Regions from separate parts of the Homo sapiens genome. Here region 2 is linked to region 1. The links come from fine-mapping of genetic effects on gene expression. Tissue or cell type: whole blood. Region 1 holds a variant in brackets; the other region holds the start of a gene. All regions are shown on one strand. Distances are between the middles of the regions.

What was found. PIP is the estimated chance that this variant, and not a neighbour inherited with it, causes the effect.
Region 2: DDB1 starts here. The variant in region 1 is fine-mapped to the expression of DDB1 in whole blood (TOPMed, PIP above 0.99).

The regions. Positions count from the first base shown.
Region 1 is chr11:61,264,595-61,267,350 of GRCh38, forward strand. It overlaps VWCE (von Willebrand factor C and EGF domains), which reads right to left. Exons shown (of 20, transcript NM_152718.2): 17 at 528-618; 18 at 362-444. Among named protein-coding and RNA genes, the nearest start is that of PGA5, 25 kb to the left of the region's middle. RefSeq lists an enhancer at 1,722-2,756. The variant C/T (reference allele first, on the strand shown) is at 1,429.
Region 2 is chr11:61,331,625-61,334,241 of GRCh38, forward strand. It overlaps DDB1 (damage specific DNA binding protein 1), which reads right to left and starts at 1,481. Exons shown (of 27, transcript NM_001923.5): 1 at 1,284-1,481; 2 at 1-67. The coding sequence starts at 1,344. TKFC (triokinase and FMN cyclase) reads left to right here and starts at 1,604. Exons shown (of 18, transcript NM_015533.4): 1 at 1,604-1,705. RefSeq lists enhancers at 1,043-1,565, 1,566-2,088 and a silencer at 1,484-1,743.

The sequences.
Region 1 (2,756 bases):
ACCCCATGAGGAAGCCCAGAGCATCTTGCCTGCCCTGGGCAGTGCCCTCAAGGGCCTCTTGCACCAGCAGCAGGACCCACGGAAAGATCCCAGGACAGAGGCTGCAGTGCCTGAGCCCTCGCCTGGAGAACAGGTAAAGCCAGCTATGGCAGGACCCCCTTTGGGAAACCACTTCTCCCTCTGGACTTCCACAGAGGGAGGAGATGGTCAAAACCAAAGATATTCTGGCAGTTAATTAAAGGCGGAGGATGGCAGGAGGATGGATTTATGCTGGCTAAAGGGCTCCATGTTTTGCAAAGGGACAAAAGGCAAGAAGCTGCCCTCTGGCGGGGCCGCTCCTGGGTTCCCAGGCCCAGCTCACCTGGCACGTGCACCGGGTGCAGGGTTCATCATCCAAGGTGAACACCTGGCCATTCGCCACCTTCCTTCCCTCGTAGTTGCAGTCTGTGGAGGAAGGGGAGACAGGAGCCCATGAGAGCCGAGGCCTGGCCGGGAACCTGGCACGTGGGGCAGCTGGTCCCACTCACCTCGGCACACGGGGCAGCACTCCCCGTCAGGGTGGAAAGGGTAGGTACAGGTGATGGGGCAGTCCACGGGGGAACAGGCCACTGAGCCCAGCTGCAGGACACAGAAAACACACAAGGCCCTCGGTTCAGGGCAGCTGACAAGACACTCAGGAAGATGCCGCTCCTATAGCCACTGAGTGTCCATCAGAACAATCAACATTGTGGGAGGAGTCCATGGTGGGGCAGTGGGGCAGGGGGCGCATTTTCTCTGTTGGGGTCCAACTTCCCACTAGAATTCAAGCCCCTCGAAGGTAAGAACATGGACTTGTCCACGGAGGGCATCTGTTAACGGGTGCCTGTTGCATAAACTGCCCAGAAAAGATAAGCACCAAAACCCGATAGAGAAAGATCCAGGGGCCAAAGTTCCCCAAAGCCCGAGGCTGAGAACAACTAGGGCCTACGTGCAGTGGGTCACTCAGGGTAAGTAGCTCAGGGCTGTTTACCGTGAGTTTCTCAATCTTTCTGCAGACCGTGTCCCTTGTCACGCATGTACTCTGCTGAGGCTCACTGATCACCAAAGAAATACCGCATCTGCACCCACACCAGCAAAGCAGCGTCATCCCGCATTCAGGGCGTCAGCATGCTAAGCATGAAGAATTTTTTTACCCGGAGTGGTGGCTCACACCTGTAATCCCAACATTTTGGGAGGCTGAGGCAGGAGGATCATTTGAGGTCAGGAGTTCGAGACCAGCCTGGCCAACATGGCAAAACTCCGACTCTACTAAAAGCACAAAAATTAGCTGGGCGTGGTGGTGCGCACCTGTAATCCCAGCTACTCAGGAGGCTGAGACGGGAGAATCGTTTGAACCTGGGAGGCGGAGGTTGCAGTGAGCCAAGATTGTGCCACTGCACTCCAGCCTGG[C/T]GACAGAGTGAGACTCTGTCTCAAAAAAAAAAAAATAAAATAAAATAATTATTTTTTTCATCCAGGCATAGTGGCTCACACCTATAATCCAGCACTTTGGGAAGCTGAGGTAGGAGGATCACTTGAGGCCAGGAATTCAAGACCAGCCTAGGCAACAGAGCAAGATCCTGTCTCAGTATTTTTTTATGTAAAATTTTTTAGCTACATTTTTAAAAAAGCTAAAAACAAAATTTTTGGCTGGGTGCAGTGGCTCATGCCTGTAATCCCCAAACCTTGGGAGGCCAAGGTGCGAGGATTGCCTGAGCCCAGAAGTTCCATACCAGCCTGAGCAATACAACACGACCCCATCTCTATGAAAAGAATTTTTTAATTAGCCAGGTGTGGTGGTAATCCCAGCTGGGTGTGATCCCACCTACTTGGGAGGCTGACATAGGAGGATCGCTTGAGCCCAGGAGGTCAAGGTTGCAGTGAGCCAAGATCACGCTACTGCACTTCAACCTGGGTGACAGAGCAACACCCTGTCTCAAAAAAAAAACAATTTTTTTTTCATTTTCCAAAAACTAAATGATACTATGGGACATGCTTTTTCAGACTGAGAGGCAGTATGACCCAGGAGAAGAAATATGCATCTCAGAATCACAATACTAGGGTTCCATTCTCAGTACTTTGATTAACTAGTTACGGGATCTGAGCAAAGACTCTCTCTGTGCCTTGGTTTTCTCATCCAGAAGAATGAGATGATAAACTCTTGAATGGATTAGCTGAGTGCATGCCTATGAAGGGCGTGGCACACTGCAAGAGCTTGACCACATGGGTCTACTGAAAAGGTTCCAGTACTGGATTCTGGGTTTGTGCGTTTCACCTCCACCCTCATCAAGAATCCCTAAGACTCTCTCTAGGGGGTAACCCGGAAGCAGAGGACTTTGCCAGCCAGGTTTAAAAATATTTCTCTGGGCTGGGCATAGTGGCTCATGCCTGTAATCCCAACACTTTGGGAGGCTGAGGTGGGCAGATCACCTGAGGTCAGGAGTTCAGGAACGGCCTGGCCAACATGGCGAAATCCCGTCTCTACCAAAAATACAAAAATTAGCCAGGCGTGGTGGTGCATGCCTGTGGTCCCAGCTACTTGGGAGGCTGACACAGGAGAATCGCTTGAACTCGGGAAGCGGAGGTTGCAGTGAGCCAAGATCACACCACTGCACTCCAACCTGGGAGCCTGGGTGACAGAACAAGGCTCCATCTCAAAAACAAACAAAAAAAATTTCTCTGGCCCTGTCTAAAGGGTCACCCTGGGCAGGACTGGAGGGAGCTGACTTCCACCATGAACC
Region 2 (2,617 bases), 67 kb after region 1:
ACATAGATCTCTAATCTCGTGTTTTTGGCAATCAACAGGTTTAAGTCTTCGGCCGAAGTAAAGTGTCCTGAAAGAACAGACCCTCTAACTTTTGAACTCAGGGGAAGGGCCTCCCATCCCTTCAAAATAATCCTATCACTTATGTCTAAATACCTCCAGAATTCTCATTTACTTCACATACTTCTCCAACTCCCTCCAGCTACTCCCCTTCTTGCCAAATCCGGCACCTCAAAGAGTCTCAGTTCATGCATTCAACAAAGCTACTTCCCTAATCAGACTAAGAAAACTGGACTGGACCTAAGAGCCGTGTGTCCTCCAAATGACAATGACTGCGTAATCCCTTCTCATGCCTCTTGCCCCTCCAATTTTACTCTATTACAGTTACAGTGGCAGGCTCTAATTGAGAATGCCGGAGAAAGTGTTCACTTCTTCCAGTCTTCATCTAAAGTCTCACAAAACTTTTATCTGACAGACCAAGTCAAATGAAGAAGTCCCAGAGCTTTATATGAAAACACTGTTTTGTCCACACCCCCTGCCCTCCTGGCAGTCTACCAATACCTCCATCCACACTCAGCTACCTCCAACTCTGAACAACAGTTTTGTTTTGGAATCATGATTAGGGTGTATATAAACATGCAAGCTTGGGGTCTGCATATTCAGCTGAGAATGTGGGTTAAGATGACTCTTCCCGGGTTCTGAACATCGGTGTCCTTAACAATCCAAGCGCATCGTCAACAAGGCAAACCCAGCACTGGGCCAGGCAAACCAAACCCTCTTCTCCAGCAGGGCCCTCATGTAAACAACAGCCCCAGGCAAAGGGGTTAGCCTGAAGAGGGCTCCTCTCCCTCTGTGGGATAATGCGGGCATTCCTCACATCCCTCCACCTCCTGGGCCCCCCAGACTTCCCCACAGGAAAATCTTGACCCCAAAGTCGTCATTACCACCTCCCCTTTTCCTGGCCACAGAAAGCCAATCTCCGGGCCCAAACGACACCGCACAACCAACTCACACTCCTCTGTCTCACTGGGCCCGCCCTGTTCTCGAGGCCGAATGACCTCCCCAGGACGAAAGGGGACCCTCGAGAGCGGCTTCCAACCCCCAAAAAGCGCGTACAGGGACGACTCTTTCGAGGTCGCGGTGCTGGGGGAGGTTCCTCGGCCGCCAGCGCCTTCCATTCGCCGGGCCCACTCCTGCCCGGCCGCCCCCGGGGCGGCGGGCCTCCCTAGGCCGCGGCTCCCCCCAACTCCCTCACTCGCCGGGGTCTCCGGCCCCGGCAGCCTCACCGGTCACGCAGCCGTTCACGGCGGTGGGCTTCTGGGCCGTTACCACGTAGTTGTACGACATGTCGAGGCTTGGAGCGGCCCGTCGGGACTCGAGCGCGACACTAGAAAGAGGGACACAAGCGAAAAGACAGGTGGCCCCCAACAGCGCGCAGCGAACTCCACTGCCGCTGCCTCCGCCCCAGAGACACGTTGCAGGCCAGAGCGGCCGGGGCGCGGGGCATCACGGGACGGCCTCACCTGGCCTCTTGGAGGACTCCCGAAGCCCGAGGCCGCCAACCGAAGGAGGCCCCGCCCCCGGAGGCACCGCCTCGCCTCTTTCCGCCAGCGCCCGCAGGACCCGGATGAGAGCGCACGCTTCGGGGTCTCCGGGAAGTCGCGGCGCCTTCGGATGTGGCGGATGCGGCCGTGAGCCGGCGGGGGAGGTGCGCCAGTGTCCTCCGAGCTCGCCCGCAGACTCCCCACCCCGTTCCGCGCCCTTTGCCCTTCCCCGCATCCAGTCCTCCTTCCGTTGCTCCAGGAGCCCTCGGGCTGTTCCTCCTTTGGGAACGGGAAGGACTGCGGAGGCATAGAGAGGGAAGGGAGACCGCGATTCGTGCATATCCCAGACTAGAACCTTGCCTGCTTTCCTTTCACTGTCTCAGTTCCTCCAGATCCAGCTGGTGCCCTCGCCTGACGTTTGAACGACCACCTGCTCACCTCCTCCCTTTTGCGCGTTGATTCTTCAGACTTCAAAGGGCCCACCGGTCTGCTTGCCCAACGTTATTAGTGCCCCTATTGCTCTACAAATTCGAACCTCAAACACAAAACCAGTATTTCTCCGTAGGGAACCTTAATGAGCCAGGAGAGCCGTCAGCCCTGCAGCCTCCAGGGTACCCCACATCAAACAGGCTCCCCGGGAACAAGAGGAATACCACGTGGCTTGGCACACTCGCAGAATGCCAGAGAGGAGCCAACCCCCATTTTACAGATGAGGAAGCTGAGGCTTAGGGAGGAATTGGTTTACCTAAGACCCTCCCCACAACCCCAAGTAGGCTGAGGCAGAGCTATGTTGATTCTTCCTATTGTGCACCCACACAGAGGCCAACACGCTGCTGAACCAGGCTGAACTGAGGAAAAGCTAGAAAGTCATCGTGGTTTACATCTTGCCTTTCCCATAGCAGAGACTCTGCCTGACTTTGGAGGCACTGAATTATCAGTAGTAAAAACACACTCTGTAGAAAAACTAGACATTGGTTTAGATTCTGGCTGTTACCTGTATTACCTTGGACAAGTCCCTAGAGCTCTCTGAGTCTGTTTCCCAGAAGTAAAATGGGTCACAAACCTGGCTAGCTCCC